Regions from separate parts of the Homo sapiens genome. Here region 1 is linked to region 2. The links come from fine-mapping of genetic effects on gene expression. Tissue or cell type: whole blood. Region 2 holds a variant in brackets; the other region holds the start of a gene. All regions are shown on one strand. Distances are from middle to middle.

The links. PIP is the estimated chance that this variant, and not a neighbour inherited with it, causes the effect.
Region 1: it holds the start of MFF-DT, and the variant in region 2 is fine-mapped to the expression of MFF-DT in whole blood (TOPMed, PIP above 0.99). The same link has a PIP of 0.9 or more in T cells, blood mononuclear cells, caudate, fetal neocortex, gastroesophageal junction and lung.

What each region holds. Positions count from the first base shown.
Region 1 is chr2:227,320,109-227,329,190 of GRCh38, reverse strand. It overlaps MFF-DT (MFF divergent transcript), which reads left to right and starts at 4,027. Exons shown (of 14, transcript NR_102371.1): 1 at 4,027-4,073. MFF (mitochondrial fission factor) reads right to left here and starts at 3,940. Exons shown (of 9, transcript NM_001277062.2): 1 at 3,764-3,940; 2 at 402-513. RefSeq lists a silencer at 3,599-3,888 and enhancers at 4,069-4,118, 7,857-8,385.
Region 2 is chr2:227,367,121-227,377,764 of GRCh38, reverse strand. It overlaps TM4SF20 (transmembrane 4 L six family member 20), which reads left to right. Exons shown (of 4, transcript NM_024795.4): 2 at 6,785-6,850. Among named protein-coding and RNA genes, the nearest start is that of TM4SF20, 6.9 kb to the left of the region's middle. RefSeq lists a silencer at 645-845 and an enhancer at 5,992-7,191. The variant G/A (reference allele first, on the strand shown) is at 5,949.

The sequences.
Region 1 (9,082 bases), 48 kb after region 2:
TATTTGACGTCTAATGGTTTCTTTAAATAAAAATAAACTTCAAAATTTAGGGTAAACTTCAAATGGAAATTACACTAAATTTTCAGCAAAGACACTATATATAAATTAAAGACATAAAAAGTTAAAGACAGTATACATGACTTTACCATGGCTAAGGTATTTCCTAAACTCCATGCTGGAGATATAGCCCCACCCTAAGCCCCCGCCTCACTGAGATGCCTAGGAGAGCTCTTAGAGGTTGCTCAGGACGCTCAGCCCCAGCAACTGGTTTGACTATGACTGCTAACTCACATCTTTTATTCTTTATCAAAAAATCTCTGGGGACATAGATCTTTAAGGATTTGGCATGCAGACGATTTAAAGACTAAGAAAGTAAGCCAAAAGGGACCATTTTTACTCACAAATGTGTAACAACTACTGCTTGCTATTTGGCACTATCTGCTTCTGTGCTTCATATTAAATCCTTTAACTTGCTTCAATGTGCATGTGCTGGATTGAGAGCCACTTTTGTCCCTGGGGAAGAAAAACAGGGGCTAATTGAGAAACTAGATGAAACCACTATTAGGGATTCATTACTGGAAATTCTCCAAATAGTAACAGTCACAAAGATGCACAACCTGACATCAAGAGACCAGTAAGAAAATAAAGAAAGAAAAAAATTAAGCTTACCACCAATCTTAGTTCCACAGATGGGGTCCTACAACTATTCATTAGTTAAGGCAATATAAAAGACTAGCTCTGTCATTGTTTCTGATTTGTATTTAGAAAAATGTGGCAGATGAAAAATACGTAAGTTTAAATGAATCTAATACTTACGTATATATATGCATATAGGTACACATATATGTTAAAGAAGAACAAATGAATTGGTTTTTTTTTTTTTTTTTTTTTTTTTGTCACCCGGGCTAGATTGCAATGGAGCTTCCTGAATAGCTGGGACTACAGGCATATGCCACCACACCCAGCTAATTTTTGTATTTTTTGTTGAGACAGGGTCTTATTATGTTGTTCAGGCTGATCTCAAACTCCTAGGCTCAAGAAATCCTCTGGCCTTCGTCTCCTAAAGTGCTGGGACTACAGGTGTGAGCCACCGTGCCCGGCCTGTTTAAATTTTCATTCACTTACGATGTTAAAATTTTGAACTAGTAATGCATGTACTCGGTACAAAGTACGCAAGCTATACAGAGAAAAGGAAGTGTCCCACTTTCAATCCTATCCTTAACCACCCAGGTTCCCACAGGCAACCTTTATAATCAATTTTTGTGCATCATTCCAGATGAGATGCTCTTCTAATACTTGCGTGTATCTCAAGCATAGCAAAAGCTCATATTCAGAACTAACACTGAAAAAAGCTACCTCAAAAAGATTATAGCCTTTGGCCATTATAAATTGAAGTTTTATAATAATAAACGAGAACCAAGTGGCTAGAACCTCAGTATCTCCTTGAAATGTGCTTTCTCTGCATTCCATTCATTGCATTTCAGTCTTACGAACTTTCTAGTAGTACATCTCATAGGTCTCACTACTATATTCCATTCTATAGCAACATCTTTTCTTACGAGAATATCTGAGTTTGTAAAAAACTAGTGACTTAGAAAATAAAGGTGGATGCTGAAATGCCAACTTCTGGAAAAAGCCAAGTTCTCCTGTAGCTGAACTACTTACATTTAAAAAGTAACTGGATTTCTACTAAGATTTAACACTGTATTATCCCAATTATTGGGTTTTCTGCTTAAAACCAATCAAAATCTGATTTTTTTTCTCCCTCGTTAGACTGTGGCATTTCTGATAATATCTTTTGGCAATAAATAAACGTCTCATTTGGTGTTGATATGTTAATTCCAGAAGTTTTGTACCTTAGAATCCAGTAGGCAACCAGTACGTGATTCTGTTACATAACAAACGAGGCAAAATCTCTCTTAGAATCACAGATGATTTCATATTTCTACTTTCTAAGCCCAGTGGTTCCCAAACACCAGTAACTAACTTGCCAACTTCATGGGTTTTTTTTTTCCCATATTCACAGAGTACATTAACTTTTTGCTACAGTTAATTTTTTTAACTCGACTTTTTAAAATCAAAAAAGTATTGTAAAAGAAAATTTTGTATCACTACCTTAAACCATGGCTGTACATATATAAATACAGATTGCAAAAACATCCTATTACAAAAAAATCCTCATCCACGTACCGCCTAGAGTCAAGTCACATGCCACTAGCGGAAAGTGTACCAATTTTGGGACACAATGATTCCAGCCCAACTTTCTCATTTTCTGTATTAGAACACTGGAACCCAGAAAGCCTCGGAAGTCACCGAAACAACTTGAGTCAAACTGACTGTGGTTGCAAATGTTTATGTACTTTTCAAAAACAAACATACAAACAAACAAAAACAAACCAAAAAAAACCCTCCAGTTGTTTATTACCTACTGCGTGGACCTAGTTCACACAGATGGGCCACTCTGCACACCCTGTTTCAGTTCTTTTTCAAAGAAACTATATTTAAAAAGTCACTGCAAACTTTTAAAACTATATATTAATGAACTTTAAAATAAGGTTATGAACCCACAGAAAAGTTTCAATACCAGAAGAGAGGAGAGCGAAGACTAAACTTTGCAATTCTGAAAGGAGGCAGCTCTATCAGACAGGAAGGGAGAGAACACAATTTCCTTTTGGAAAAAATGGCAAAACCAATATACAAGCCTTTGAAACCAAAAGATAGAAGGTCCCCCAAGCAATTTAATTGCATGGGAAAAGACTACTAAGTATAACTAAATCGTCCTAATTTTCCTAAGGGTTTTTCTTTTGGGCTCTCATTAGCCAACGGAATTGAGGCAGAAAAAATGTTTTTCACGCAGGGAGACAAAACATTTGTGATCATCTTAAGTCTCTCGGTGGATGAGAGGCCTGAATACAAATGGTTCTATATTTGGGCAGAAGGGCCAGAAACCTTTTTTTTTTTTTTCCCCTTTAATGTTCTCCAATGAAAACATGTCACTTTTGAAAGGGTGCTCTTCCCTCGAGAATGCCCTTTGCTTCTAACTTTGTGGGAGGTAGACAGGGGTGTTCTTTTACGATAGTAATAGTAGCACACGTCCTGCAGAGGAAGGTCAGAAGCTCGGCGGAACAGGAACCGCAGCTTTCCTCCGGCTTCCCAGCTCCTGGAAGGAAACCCGAGAGCAACTGCCTGCAGCCACATCTGCGAGCAGGGATGCTCACAGACGGACAGGGTGGCCCGCAGCCACCCGCGATGCCACAACCTGGGCTTCCAACAAGGCCCTTCTTTTCCAAAATGTACTTGCCACAAAACAACACAAAAACCTCCTTTTAAACAAGGCAGGTTTAAGGTCAGCCTGTAAGGTGTCAGGGCCTTGGCAGGGAAGGATGAGTGAAGACCTGCAAAGCCCGGCGTTCACGCTCACGGGACTCCCGCTGCTTCCCAAACCCCTATTTTCCAGTCGGAAAAGTCCGGGTTAATACACAAAAGGAGACGCCGAACCACACAAGGTGAAGAGGTTCGCCCAAAAACACCTGCAGAAGACGCTCCTCTCCCTCGCTCTCCTCGGGGACTCAAGGTCCCGGGGAGGAGGAAAGACCAGGGTTGAAGGCAAGAGGCCCGGGGACGGGACTCGGGTCAGGGAGACACTACCGGGGGGGCCGGGGCCACCGCGGGTCCCTGTTGGCCGGAGGGTCTCGGCGGCGGCGATAGGCCTGGCAGCCAGCTCGGGCGGCAGGTCGCGGGTCGGGAAGACGTCAACACTCACCCCTGGGCCCACAGGAGGGTCCCGGCGAGGACCCCCGCCCTCTGGCTCCCGGGGCGCTCGAGTGGGCGCTCTCAGAGGTGGTTGGCTGAGAGCACGGAGGCGCCCAGGGACAGCACCGGCGGAGCGGCCCGCAGAGGGCCAGGGCAGAAGCGCGAAAGGCGCGGGCTGGCCCCTTCTGGGAGCCGTAGCGGAAGAGTGTTCGTGGTCATGTGACGCGGAAAAGGGCGGACGCGTGGCCCACGCACTGGAACGGCTCCACGGTAAGCGATGCGCAGACATCTTTGTTGTGGGCGAAACGAGGTGACCGCAGGTGACTCCTCTTGCGGTTAAGTTTAATTCACACTTCGGCTTTATTAGATTTTGTAATCTTTAAGAACTTGGTGTTTGCAAGGTAAACCTTTGGTAGCCAATTAAAACAACTTTTTCAGGACCATCTGGCATGAAAATTTCTATGCTGTGAGGCTTAGGAATTCTCATATGTAAATCAGCTCCGCCAGTGATTCCATGAGTTCCAATTTGATACTTCTTAAGCCCTCGGTTGATCAGACCTTGTCTTCCATGAGAATTCCGGGAGAGGGGAAGTTAAGTTTCACAGTAGTTGGCGGCATCGTTTAGCTTTGGGAGAGCACTCTCTGCTTCTGAACACCCAACCACAGACTCTTCCCCCCAGGAAGCCCTTGCTTAGAGCGGGGGAAAAATGGTACAGTGCTTGTCAGTATGGGAATGTACTGAGGCCAAATAATGTGATATTTTATATGCCTTGGTTTTCACAAACACCTAAAGGTGTACACATGACTTATGTACTCCCCTACGATCTAATTGATATTCTAGAGATGTTACCATTCTTCAAAATGATTTGGGAAGCCCTCTGAATTGCGTTCTTGGGCTTCTTAACACTGGTGTAGGGAAAGTGAAAATATTTCCTCTCCCCTCTTGGGGTCTTGGCTGGGCCTAAGAATTAAACTGATGAGGAAAAGAGTCAAACTCTAAAATATTTGAAGAGATTTATTCTGAGCCAAATGTGAGTGACCATGGCCCGTGACAGAGCCCTCAGGAGGTCCTGAGAACATGTGTCCAAGGTGGTTGGGGCGCAGCTTGGTTTTATGTATTTTAGGGAGGCATGAGACATCAATCAAATAAATTTAAGAACTACATTGGTTTGGTTCAGAAAGGTGGGACAACTCAAAGCAGGGGCTTCCAAGGCTGTAGGTAAATTTAAACATTTTCTGGTTGACAGTTGAAGACCTGGGACCCATAGAAAGGAAATGTTGAGGTTAAAATAAAAGATTGTGGAGACCAAGGTTCTTTTGAAGTCTTATAGTGGCTGCCCTTAGAGACAATGGATGACAAATGTTTCCTATTCAGATCTTTAAAAGGTGCTAGATTCTTACGTAATCTCTTTAGGATTGGGAGGACCTGGAAGAAAATGATCTAGCTATGTTAATAGAAATTCTATGTAGATGCAGATTTTCCCCCAACAAAGGACAGCTTTGCAGAGCCGTTTCAAGATATGTCAAAAACTAAAAAAAATGTTTTGCGGTAAAATATTTTGATTTTGTTTCTTGTCTCGTTATGCCAGTGTCAGATTGGAAAGTAAGTCACAATATATAGGGTTAAATAAAACCCATCTGATGAGAATTTATGGATTGTAGGGCATGAATCCCTAGGCCCCTTAGATAGGAATTTGAGCAAGATTAAAAAAAAAATCAGAGCTTAGTCTCCACTGACGTAAAATAGAGACATAAAACATAACAGGAGGAAAGCATACAAATTTTATTTAGTAATTTTTACATTTACATTGGAGCCTTCCCTAGAAAAATGGAGACCCAAATTAACAGTTGGACCCTAAGTGCTTTTGAGTCTCCATTTTTCTAGGGAAGGCTAAAAAGAGTAGTAAATTGTGAAAATGTGAGAAAACAAACAGATTTGGGTTAGTGCAGTTAATGCAGAAGTGACTAAGAAGATAAAGGTTGTTGTAACAAAGTGGAAATGAAAATCGGTAAGTTTGTGCAGATACAGCTCAGCTTTGACTCCATGTCTCTGGTGTTGAGAACATCTCCCTTCCTCCTTATACAGGGAGGGCACCTTTCATACGGAAGTTTTATCTCCTGCTTTCAGGAAGGAAAAAGGAAAGCCACAGTGCTCTTTTTGCATTTTTTTTTTAAGTGCCTTTGACTCGAAAATAATCTTTATGCCAAAGTGCCATATTTTGGGTTGGCATATCCTACTATTGACAGAGCAGAAGCACTGCCATTTTAAAGTGCCCCTTGATCAAAAACCACCTAAATCCAACCCAGAGGGCATCAGCCTAATGGCTGTCAGCATGACCACAAACCACAAATGACACCTCCGACCAGAAACATTCTAACTCTAAGATAAACCCCTCTCCCACCAGACACATGCCAGCCCCAAGATAACCTTCCCTCTGACCGAGCGATGTCAGCCCCAAGATAACCTTCCCTCTGACCGGAGCGATGTCAGCCCCAAGATAACCCCTCCCCTCCAACCAGAGACATTCCAACCCTGTAATAAACTTCTCCTCCAAGCAGAAATATTCCAAGCCTGTGATAAGCTCTCTCACCCTAAACCCTTAAATACTCTTAGTCTGTAAGAGAGAGTGCTCCTGACCAAAATTGGCCAGAAGCCCCTCTCAGGTTTATTCTCTAAAATAAACCTATCCTTGATTGTTGAGCCACTTTTTGTGTTTCTCTCTTCTTTCTTTAACTCTTAACAACTACCCTACAGAGACAAATAAGCCTTTAAGAATAGATTGATTTTTAGGAATAATAAGTCATTCCAAGTCAATCTTTTGTGGGAAGATAGAGATCAAGTTGGGAGATCATGCATTAGGTTGGTTCTGAGGACTAAGCTCTGATTTTTTTATCTTGCTCAAATTCCTATCTAAGGGGTTTGGGGAGTCATGTTCTCCAAACCATAAATGCACATCAGATGGGTTTTATTTAACCGTGTATATCATGACTTACTTTCCAATCTGACTCTGGCATAATAAGGAAGAAAATAAAAATATTTTACCCAAAAATATCTTTCCTTGCCCTACCTTGAAATTGTCCTGCAAAGTCTCTTATGGGAAAAATCCACATTCTGTAGAGAATCTGCTTTCCCCTTTGTTTTCCTTCCTTCTGTGTCCGGAATTGGTGGGTTCTTGGTCTCGCCGACTTCAAGAATGAAGCTGCGAATACTTGCGGTGAGTCTTACAGTTCTTAAAGATGGTGTGTCATGTGTCCGGAGTTTGTTTCTTCAGATGTTCAGATGTGTCCGGAGTTTCTTCCTTCTGGTGGGCTCATGGTCTTGCTGGCTTCAGGAGTGGAGCTGCAGACCTTTGCGGTGACTGTTACAGCTCTTAAAGGCAGCACATCTGGAGTTGTTCATTCCTCCTGTCCAGAGTTATTTGTCCCTCCTGGTGGGTTTGTGGTCTTGCTGGCTTCAGGAGTGAAGCTGCAGACCTTCGCGGTGAGTGTTACAGCTCATAAAGGCAGCGTGGACCCAAAGAGTGAGCAGCAGCAAGATTTATTGCAAAGAGCAAAAGAACAAAGCTTCTACAACATGAAAGGGGACCCCAGCAGGTTGCTGCTGCTGGCCCAGTCAGCCTGCTTTTATTCCTTTATCTGGCCCCCACCCACATCCTGCTGATTGGTCCATTTTACAGAGAGCTGATTGGTCCATTTTACAGAAAGCTGATTGGTCCATTTTGACAGGGTGCTGATTGGTGCATTTACAATCCCTGAGCTAGACACAGAGTGCTGATTGGTGCATTTACAATCCTCCAGCTAGACATAAAAGTTCTCCAAGTCCCCACCAGATTACTAGACACAGAGCACTGATTGTTGCGTTTACAAACATTTAGCTAGACAGAGAGTGCTGATTGATGCATTTACAATCCTCTAGCTAGACATAAAAGTTCTCCAAGTCCCCACTAGATTAGCTAGACACAGAGCACTGATTGGTATGTTTACAAACCTTTAGCTAGAGACAGAGTGCTGATTGATGCATCTACAATCGTCTAGCTAGACATAAAAGTTCTCCAAGTCCCCACTGGATTAGCTAGACACAGAGCACTGATTGGTGCGTTTACAAACCTTTAGCTACACACAGAGCACTGATTGGTGTGTTTACAAACCTTGAGCTAGACACAGAGTGCTGATTGGTGCATTTACAATCCTCTAGCTAGACGTAAAAGTTCTCCAAGTCCCCACCAGATTAGCTAGATACAGAGTGCTGATTGGTGCATCCACAAACCCCGACCTAGACACAGAGTGCTGATTGGTGCATATACAATCTTCCAGCTAGACATAAAAGTTCTCCAAGACCCCACCTGACTCTAGAGTCCAGTTGGCTTTGCCTAGTGGATCCTGTGCTGGGGCTGTGGGCAGAGCTGCCCTCCAGTCCCGTGCTGCGCACATGCACACCTCAGCTCTTGTGCGGTCGATGGGACCAGGCGCCGTGGAGCAGGGGGCGGTGCCCATCAGGGAGGCTCAGGCTGTGAGGGAGCCCATGGTGGGGGTGGCTCGGGCATGGTGAGCTGCAGGTCCTGAGCCCTGCCCCGTGGGGAGGTGGCTGAGGCCCGGTGAGAATCCAAGCGTGGCGCAGGTGGGCTGGTAGTGCTGGGGGACCCGGCGCACCCTCTGCAGCTGCTGGCCTGAGTGCTAAGCCCCTCACTGCCTGGGGCCAGCGGTGCTGGCCGGCCACTTTGAGCGTGGGGCCTGCCAAGCCCGCACCCACACGGAACGCGTGCTGGCCTGCGAGCACTGCACACAGCCCTGGTTCCTGCCTGCGCCTCTCCCCCCACACCTCCCTGCAAGCTGAGAGAGCCGGCTCTGGCCTCGACCAGCCCAAAGAGGGGCTCCCACAGTGCAGCGGCAGGCTGAAGGGCTCTTCAAGCATGGCCTGAGCGGACGCCGAGGCCGAGGAGGAGCTGAGAGTGAGCGAGGGCTGCTAACACGTTGTCACCTCTCACTTCCTTTCCAGATCTAGGAGATAATCAGCTAAGAGCCAGGCACCCATTTAGTTCCGATAAGAAACAAAATTTTACAACCTACTGTCTCTCTAAAGTCCTGCTGAGAGCTTCCTCTGCACAATAAAACTGGGTCTCCACAGTCCTTTATCTTAACCTGAACAGTTCCTTTCTGTGGGTCCCAGGTCTTCAGATAAACTCAACCAATTGTCAACCAGAAAATGTTTAAATTTACCTATAGCCCAGAAGCCCCTACTTTGAATTGTCCCGCCTTTCTGAACCAAACCAGTATATTTCTTAAATGTATTTGATTGATGTCTCATGCCTCCTTAAAATATGTAAAGCCA
Region 2 (10,644 bases):
TACCTCCCGCTTACAAGTGAGAACATGCGGTTTTTGGTTTTCTGTTCATGCGTTAGTTTAAGGATAATGGCCTCCAGCTCCATCCATGTCCCTGCAAAGGTCATGATCTCATTCCTTTTTTATGGCTGTGGAGGTGATTTTTAAAGAAATTCAGGACATAGTTTTCTACTTGAATCACTGATTCTGAATTATGATCAGTTACTGCTGCTGGTATTATCCCCAGATTTACAAAAACACTCTTCCTTTACCATCACAAAGAATCTGTTCCTCTGCTTTAGGTAGAAAGATCTAATTAAAGAAAAAGCTTTTGGAAAGTTTTGGGCTATTTCTTCACACTGCCATGAATGCTCTCTTCCAGGCTGAGAGACAGAAAACACATTGCAACTCAACAGCATGAAGCAACTGTACATCCGTGTGTCTGTTTTCTTCCCTGTAGAAGGCTTCTCTCTGCTTGAGTAGTAGAAGCCTCTTTTGCATTTGCTTACACCAGAAGCCAGGAGCAGCTGGCTGAGCATGACTTAACGATAGCAATTTCCATGAAGCTCCTAGAAGTTCCTGAGTTAAGACAATCCACTTAGAATAACACATGCAGCTTTAGATATAAATTGGCTCTGCCACAAATCCCATGAGATTAAAAAAAATGTATTAGCATTAAAGGAGTCGGAGGTGGCGATGACACATACCTACATCTCCTGTATTCTTCATTTTAGGATGGTGGCGGGTGTGGCAGGGAGAGAAGAGAAAGAGAAAGGCAGAGACAGACAGAAGGACATAAGTGCTCATTTATTGGCCGTCTGCCAAAGGCCAGCTACTGGGTTCATACATTACCTTGTTATCTCATTTAGTCTCTATAATAATGTGTGCATTTATTATCACTTGAATTTTATAGGCCAGCAGATAGAAAGTTAGGAATGTTAACAAGGTCACCTAATGGATGTGAAATTCCAGATTTATCTGACGTCAAAACTCTGTTTTTCCACCAGTGCTAGTACCGTAGTCCTCAACACCTGTCTCAGGGCTGCCAGAGGTGAAAGATATAATCTATAAATTAATCCATAAAGTCAAGTGACCAGGAAACTGAGTCACAGAAAGATTATAGAAACTCGTGGAACAGTTTCAGAGAATCTGAACTTCCTCGTTCTACAGCTAAGTTTACTTTATCACCCTCAGTAAGTATTATCAAAGATATAAACACCAGACTATCTCTATTATTCTGTATTATAGAATGTCATTAAAGCATCAGACAACTCTTTGAAAAGTCCAATATGAACTTTATAGACAGAGGCTATGCCCACAAGCAAACAGGTGGGTGGTAAAAAGGGCTCAGACTACAGGTATATTTTCATGATCCTCAGATAGATAGAGAATGTGGAAGAAAGTGTTTTTCAAAGGAATTTATTAATATGTCCTTTATAATATCCATGAAAATACTCACTAGTTCAAAATACTGAGCTTTCAATATACTAGTAACTACACAAAAAAGTTAATAGAGAAGAAATCACTGCCTGTGATAAGCACTTTGGTCATAGTTCTTGAAATCTTTCCAGAATTACTGTAGTGTTTCAAATTAGTATTGTTACCAAAAATGGGATTTTGCAGGAAGTAGATAATTATACAAACTATGGAATTCATTATTGATTACATCATGAAATATATTCATTTTATGGCTTCATGACTTACTTAAAACGGAGGCGGACTTTTCATCTTCTAAAACTATGACTAAGTAAAAATGTGATGTACTTAATTATCTTTAACTTTAAATGGAAAAATCAATACAAATGTTATTTGTTCGAGTATTTTTAAAAAGATCTCAAAATGTTTCCTTGAAAACATATAAACAGAAAGGCCATTTTATTTTATATGAGGTTGTGAGCCTGATCTTAATCATGCTTATTCATTGAGTTCACTTATTAGATAATAGTAACTCATCAAAGTCAACTATTGAAGTCTTAATGGAGAACAAATTGTTGAAAGCTGGCCAGGCACGGTGGCTCATGTCTGTAATCCCAGCACTTTGGGAGGCCGAGGCGGGCGAATCACGAGGTCAGGAGATCAAGACCGTCCTGGCTAACACGGTGAAACGCCGTCTCTACTAAAAATATAAAAAATTAGCCAGGCTTGGTGGTGGGCTCCTGTTGTCCTAGCTACTCAGGAGGCTGCGGCAAGGGAATGGTGTGAACCCAGGAGGTGGAGCTCGCAGTAAGCTGAGATCGCGCCACTGTACTCCAGCCTAGGTGACAGAGCAAGACTCCATCTCAAAAGAAAAAAACAAATTGTTGAAAGTTAAACAGATGAGAAGACATTAGGCATGACAAACATTTGTAAAATATACTTTTGTGGGTTTTCTTTGGTTTTTTTTGGTCATTGTTTTTGAGACAAGGTCATGCTCTGTCACTCAAGCTAGAATGCAGTGCTGTGAGCACAACTCACTGCATCCTCAACCTCCTGGGATCAAGTGATCCTCCCACTTCAGCCTCCTCAGTAGCTGGGACTATAGGCATGCACCACTATTGCCCAGCTTATCTTAAATTTTTTTTTGGCCAGGTATGGTGGCTTATGCCTGTAATCCCAGCATCTTGAGAGGCTGAGGTGGGTAGATCACCTGAGGGCAGGAGTTCGAGACCAGCCTGGCCAACATGGAGAAACCCGTTTCTATCAAAAAATACAAAAATTAGCCAGGCATGGTGGTGCATGCCTGTAATCCCAGCTACTCGGGAGGCTGAGGCAGGAGAATCACTTGTACCCAGAGGCAGGAGTTGCAGAGAGCCGAGATTGTGCCACTGCACTCCAGCCTAGGTGACAGAGTGAGACTCTGTCTCAAAATTTTTTTTTTTTTTTTGTAGATAGGGTCTCACTATATTGCCCAGGTTGGGGTCAAACTCCTGGGTTCAAGCAAGCCTCCTGTCTTGGCCTCCCGAAGTGCCAGAATTACAGGCATGAGCCACCATGCCTGGCTGCAAAATATAGTTTTGATATTTGTAATGAGCTATGACTTTGTGTGTTACTCTCATGTTCAAGTTCTTAGAGGACTCCCAAAAGTCTGAATTTCATCACAGGATTTTTAATGGTCTGAAGTTTTTCCACACTTCATTTGTAAAATCATGTAACTTCTCAAACTAAATACAATTAGGGGGCTCTGTAAGAAAAAATCAACAATATTACTTTCCTTTTTAAAAACAAAAGACTAGCAAGACTTTTAATTTTACAAAAACTCAGGCATTCAAATATGCTTAGGAAATGAAGAGAAAGTGTGTTCTCATAATTACTCATTTTGGCAGGAGATTATCTGGAAAATTTATATATAATTCATACACACACACACACACACACCATTCACAGTTTTAGTGTCTGTCTAAAGAGCCCCTCCAATTTCCGGAGCTCTGAATGGGAAAGCGGTTGAAACCGCAGCGAGTTGTCAAATCACCAGTAACAGCATTACAAAGATGTGTTAATACGCCTTGAAGTCGGTGGGGTGGTGACTTATACACTGTAAGTAATTGTCCCTTTATAAAACCCCTTTGTAAGTGAATCATGAAAGGAAATATTTAGTAACTCTGAAATAAACTTATCTTCAAGAAAGTTACCAGAGTTCAGTTTGCATCAACAAGGAAAATAGAACAATTTATCCATTTAAGTTGTAATGTCAATCCACTTTTTTTTTTTTTTTTTTTTTTTTAGACAGGGTCTCACTTTGTCATCTAGGCTGGAGTACACTTGCACTTTCTTTTAAAAGAATCATTAATTTTCTAAATCTGTAGCTGGCAAACTGTAAATATTCAGCCAATATTTTCGGTTTATAAACCAGCCTCTTCCACATATTTTTTTTTTTTTTTTTTTGAGACGGAGTCTCGCTCTGTCACCAGGCTGGAGTGCAGTGGCGCGATCTCGGCTCACTGCAACCTCTGCCTCCCGCGTTCAAGCGAGTCCTCTGCCTCAGGCTCCCTGGTAGCTGGGACTACAGGCACGTGCCACCAAGCCCGGCTAATTTTTTGTATTTTAGTAGAGATGGGGTTTCACCATGTTGGCCAGGATGGTCTCGATCTCCTGATCTCGTGATCCGCCCACCTTGGCTTCCTGAAGTGCTGGGATTACAGACGTGAGCCACCGCGCCCGGCCTCTTCCACACAATTTAACTCTACTCTTGGTGCACAAAAGTAGCCATAGACAATATGTAAATACATGGATGTGACTGTGTTCCAATAAAACTTTATTTACAAGAAAGAGGTGGTGGGCCATAGTTTGCCAGTTCCCGTTCTAAATGATTTGTCCTGTAAGCTCAAAAGGCAGTACAGCTTATGTGTACAATAAAAGATGTTTAGTGCACGAATACTGATACCTATTTGGGAGCTAAAATTTCTTTTCCCTTTTCTTCTGGGCTTTCAGCTATGCGCCAAGGTGGCTAGGCAGCCATATACACATGTGGCCTCTAAATAAGGAGGGTGGTGGTGTTCAAGGCAATGTGTAAGCAAAGCTTGATAATAATACAAAGTGACATGGAGGCAGTACATCATCAGATGGAGTGAGGTTTGTTAGGAAAGCTGCCTTGTAAAGAGGCATAAACTTTAAACCCGTGCTAAAAGAATAAAGGCAGATGTGGCCTTGGATAAATGAATCAGAGTGGGAGTAACTGGAAGGACAATGAGATGGGCAAGGGTGAAGGCAGCAGGGAAGATGAGAATGAACAAACTCTAGGTAGGAATAGGGGAGAATTGTAAGACTTGAGTCAGTGTGGAATAGGGATTAAGAGTCCCGGCTGAGCACAGAGGCTCACCTGTAATCTCAATGCTTTAGGAGGCCGAGGCGATCACTTGAGCCCAGGAGTTCGAGACCAGCCTGGGCAACATGGCAAAATCCCCGTCTCTACAAAAAAATGCCCCCCAGAATAAATTAAAACTAACAGGGCGTGATGGCATGCATCTGTAGTCCCAACGACTCGGGAGGCTGAGGTGGGAGGATCACTTGAGCCCTGGGTGTTGAGGCTGCAGTGAACCGTGATCATGCCACCGCACTTCAGCCTGGGTGACAGAGTGAGACCCTGTCTCAAAAAAACAAAACAAAACAAAAAACTATGTGGGCTCTGCACCCCAAATGACTAGCTTTTTTTGTTGTTGTTGTTTGTTTTTTTGAGATAGAGTCTCGCTCTGTCGCCAGGCCGGAGTGCAGTCACATGATCTCAGCTAACTGCAACCTCTGTCTCCCAGGTTCAAGTAATTCTGCCTCAGCTTCCTGAGTAGCTGGGGCTACAGGTGTGCACCACCTCGCCCAGCTAATTTTTGTATTTTTAGTAGAGACGGGGTTTCCTCATGTTGGCCAGGCTGGTCTCGATCTCCTGACCTCGTGATCCACCCACCTCGGCCTCCTAAAGTGCTGGGATTACAGACATGAGCCACCGCGCCCAGCCAAATGACTAGTTTTGAATCCCAACCCTTCTACCAAGAAAGTAGAAGGACAATTTGAGTAATTTGTCCTTTCTATGCCTCAGTTTTCTCATTGGTAAAATGGGAATAATAATAGCACCTACCTCATAGGATTATTATGAGGATGGAATAAACTAAGGCGTGTAAAGTGCCTGTAACAGAGTCTGGCATTCGCCAGAGCTCGGGAAAATGTTAGAGAATGAGAGTAGAAGGAGAGAGAAAAACCACTCAAGGGCAGCTGTGCTGAGATGGCAAAAAAACCTACGCCTAAAATTTCTCAAGCGGAAGGAAATAATTACATTCCACCCTTCAATGATACAAAACTCCTTCCAGTAAGAATTTCTAGTCGTAGCTGCTGCCTAGATATACTAAAAATTGAAACCCAAGTCCTGAGAATATGGTGTTCTTTCTTACAGCTTTCCTTGGCAACGTGTATTTCCCTGAAGGCAGAATGCGATCTATAGATTTCTGAGCATCAATATATAAAGTGAGATCATTACATATCATGGATATAGGAAGAGAAAGGAGAAC[G/A]TGGAACCAAAAATAATTCTCAAATATAAGTTTGGGGAAACCAGCAAGATAGCCGGGATCCTGGGAAAAGAAAGGCTAGTGGGAGTGGGTGGTGACAGAATGATTTGTTCCCAACTGCCAGGCAAACAAAACCATCAATTTCTTTTCTGCAGGTTTGCCAGAATAATCCATACAATTTCTGGGAAATCGGGCCAGGCGTAATGGCTCACATCTTTAGTTTTCTTGGCAGGAGGTTTTCTTGAGGCCAGGAGTTCAGGACCAGTCTGGGCAACAGAGTGAGATCTTGCTTCTACAAAAATATTTTTAAAATTAGCCAGGTGTGGTGGTCTACACCTGTGGTCCTAGCTACTCAGGAGGCTAAGGCAGGAGGATTATTTGAGCCCAGGAGTTCAAGGCTACAGTGAGCTATGCTCGTATCACTGCACTCTGGCCTGGGTAAGAGAGTGAGACCCCTACTCTTTAAACAAACAAACAACAGAGTTTGGATGATGCAGCCAATTCTTTCAGAAACATTTCTTCCAAAAATAATGTATAAATAAGTCATCCTAATCTATTTAAAATCCAATTCTCTGCAGATGACTCAGAGTGAACTAAGAATGTAGATAGAAGACTTCAAAACTCCTGTCTTGAATTCCCCTGTTCCCGCCGCCACTTTTAATCTTTCTGGTTGAAACTGGGATGACAAGGTTCACAAAACCACGGATATTGCCAAATTCCCTTTTTGTTCTTTGAGCCTTGATTTCCCACAACTGGTGGTAAACGGAAGGTGAAGATTACTATTTTTTCTTCTGATGAGAAGTTATAATACTCATCTTTCCTGTTGATGTCATTTCCAGGCCATTCCAGCAACAACAATGTCCTTGACAGCAAGAAAAAGAGCGTGCTGCAACAACAGAACTGGAGTAAGTATGAAGCAGTCGGCGTGGAAGCAGAAGTGCATGAACAGTTATTGCTACCTAAGCAAAGCCACACTGAGTCACTCGCATCTACCGAATCACAGTGGGGCTCCACTGACAGAGCCACAGCCTTAGAAACATGCTATTTTTATTTATTTATTTAGAGACAGGGTCTTGCTCTGTTGCTGAGACTGGAGTGCAGTGGTGCGATCTCGGTTCACTGAAACTTCTGCCTCCCGGGATCAAGCAATTCTCCTGCCTCAGCCTCCTGAATAGCTGGGACTACAGGTGCACACCATCACGCCCAGCTAATTTTTGTATTTTTAGTAGAGATGGGGGTTTCAACATGTTGGTCAGGCTGGTCTCAAACTCCTGACCTCGAGTGATCTGCTCGCCTCGGCCTCCCAAAGTGCTGGGATTACAGGTTTGAGCCACTGCGCCTGGCCTGAAACATGCTATTTAGGATGATTATATAGAAGTAGAAAAAGTGAGACGGGTTTTTTTGTCCCACAAACATTTAGAGTTGGCCTTCTGTCCCTTCCTCAGTCTTCCGTGGATTGTCCTTTCCTCAATCTAAAGGTTTTCAAAGAAAGGAGATTGGTAAGTCACGCCCACAGCTGCAATCAATTTCATAATACTCGGGTGTGATATTTTTGTGGCGTATATAAAATACTCAGGGAAAATGTACTCAGTTCTCTCATGCAATGACAGACTGGTTTGCTAGGATTAGAATGACAATTGCCTTTATCCAGTTAAATTAAAGGAGCTGCCAGGTTTTTTTCCCCCAAAACATTTAATGCCTACCCACTATGTATAAAGTCGTAACGAAGTTAAAAGTAAATTAAGATTCATTAACCGGAGTGTCACTCTGCTCAGAACACTTTCAGAGATGCTGTTTCATTTAATTCTCTCAAAACCCTTAAGTGGGAAAAAGTAAGAAGTGTGTTTGATTGACGAAGGAATGGACGCTCAGAGAAAGTAAATAATTTGCCAGTGTAGCACACTAGTAAGTGGATTTTTATCCAAACCCACTGGAGCACCCCACAATTCATGATCTTTATACCATGAACATGGCTATTAAGCAACATAAGGACTCTCACAATTCCCTGTGGAAGGGGTAGATTGACAGCAAGCAGTCACAGTAAATCTGCTTGGCTGAGCTTGAGCTTTCAGAGCAATGGTTCTCAGATGGATGGGAACATTAGGCTGGGCACGGTGGCTCACAGCACTTTGGGAGGCTGAGGTGGGAGGATCACTTGAGGTCTAGAATTCAAGACCAGCCTGGCCAACATGGTGAAACCCCGTCTCTACTAAAAATACAAAAATTAGCTGGGCACGGTGGCCCATGCCTGTAATCCCAGATACTCAGAAGGTTGATGCAGGAGAATCTCTTGAACCCAGGAGGCAAAGGTTTCAGTGAGCCGAGATCACATCACTGCACTTCAGCCTGGGCAACAGATGAGTAAGACTCTCTCAAAAAAAAAAAAAAAAAAGACAGATGGGGATATTAGAATTATCTAAAGAGATTTAAAAAAATACCAGTGCCTGGGTGGCCGCCAGAGATTCTGCATCAGTATTTTTCAAAAGCACTCAAGATAATTTGGCCAGGGGTTAGAACCACTACTTAAAAAAAACAAACCAGATATTTCTATCCATAATGGAAGATTCATATTTTTAAAAATTACCCTTTTTCTGACATTTGATATTTATCTAGGATTACAATAATTATGCTAATTAGTTCTAGTCTATTTTTGTCTGAATACATTTTAGGTATTCAATAAACACTAATTTTCAGTTTCCCTTCCCTGTCACTTTTCTTTGTAAACGATAATAATTTGGAATTTGACTTTGTATCTTTTCTATGTGGTGTTCACAACATTCTTGACATCCTGAGACATTTCTGAATTCCTGAAATCAAAAATATCAAAACACTTATATAGGCTTTTCCGATAGGTGTATCCTCTAAGAACTGGTTTTTATGTCGTATCTGGTGTCTTTGAGGCCTAGATAAGACCAAAACATGAGACAAGTGGCAAAGGCAACATCTTGGGAGGAAGGGAAAGGGTTGACCAAGGCTTGTCCCCTATTTTAACTGTTCTTTGCTTCTTCCCTTTTTCCAGTTCTTATTTTTGCTTCTGAATACAAAATGGTTTTGCTGAATCATTTAAGTGAATCCCCTTTAGGGGAAATACACATGCCTGGAATCACTTTCTAAAGCCAGGCCTTTTGTAGGGATGAGAACTCAAAGATAATATGGCTGGGTGCGGTGGCTCACGCCTGCAATCCCAGCACTTTGGGAGGCTGAGGTGGGCGGATCACTTGAGTTCAGGAGTTTGAAACCAGCCTGGCCAATATGGTGAAACCCTGTCTCTACTAAAAATACAAAAAATAAAAATAAAAAAATTAGCCAGGTGTAGTGGCGGGCATCTGTAATCCCAGCTACTTGGGAGGCTGAGGCAGGAGAATTTCTTGAACCCAGGAGGCAGAGGTTACAGTGAGCCCAGATAGCGCCACTGCACTCTATCCTGGGAAACAAAGAAAGGCTCCGTCTCAAAAACAAAAAATTATATATATATATATATATAAATAATAGATGGCGGCCAGGCGTGGTGGCTCACGCCTGTAATCCCAGCACTTTGGGAGGCTGAGGCGGGCGGATCACAAGGTCAGGAGATGGAGACCATCCTGGTTAACAGGGTGAAACCCCATCTCTACTAAAAATACAAAAAATTAGCCGGGCGTGGTGGCGGGTGCCTGTAGTCCCAGCTACTCAGGAGGCTGAGGCAGGAGAATGGCGTGAACCCGGGAGGCGGAGCTTGCAGTGAGCCGAGATCATGCCACTGCACTCCAGCCTGGGCGACACAGCGAGACTCCGTCTCCAAAAAAAAAAAAAAAAAAAAATAGATGGTTAAAAATAAACACCATGGCACTTCTTGATGAGTACATTTAAGTAACTGCACAAGTCACAGTAGCATGGAAGAATCAGGATTTGAAGTAGACTCCAAATCCATCATTCTGAACTTTTGGCTGGAAGAAGAATAGTGATTAAAGTGTTTCCCAGCTGTGAGAGCCTGACAAGTTTTGTCCATCTCCATGATACACAGTTTTCTCATCTATAAAATGGAAATAATAATAGTATCTACCTCTTGGGATTATGAAAAGAATTAAATGAGATGATATATGTAGAGCACAACATCCCTCAACACAACTCTATAGGTAGCCACCTTATTCTGCACTCATAAAAGGCAGGTCTCAAGAACACAACACACAGACCCTGTGGGAGCTGCATTATCCCAGCAAAGAAAAAGGAAAAGCATTCCCTCGCTTCATTTCTGCTGATTTTGAAATAATCATCAGTGACTAACAACTTCACTGAAACAATACAAAAGTTTCCTTCTTTTTTTTTTCTTTTAGAGATGGGCTCTTACTACGTTGCCCAGGCTAGTCTCGAACTCCTGGGCTCAAGCAATCTACCCTCCTTGGCCTCCCAAAGTGCTGGGACTACAGGCATGAGCCACTGTGCCTGGCCTAAGAGCTTATTTTTGGAAAAACAAACACGAACTTTCATTCAGTTTCCTATGCCAAATTCCATGCCTTCTTCTGCTCTCATGACTGACTCACGAAATAAAGATGTGTACAATCTTTCTAACACAGTGGCTCTCAACCGGCGGGTTATTTTACCCACCCACCTCCACCCCAAGAGGATATTTGGCAATGCCTGGAGACATTTTTGGTTGTCAGAACCGGGCTGGAGGTGGCAAGGCGTCGGGGGATGATATTGGCATCTAGTGGGTAGAGAT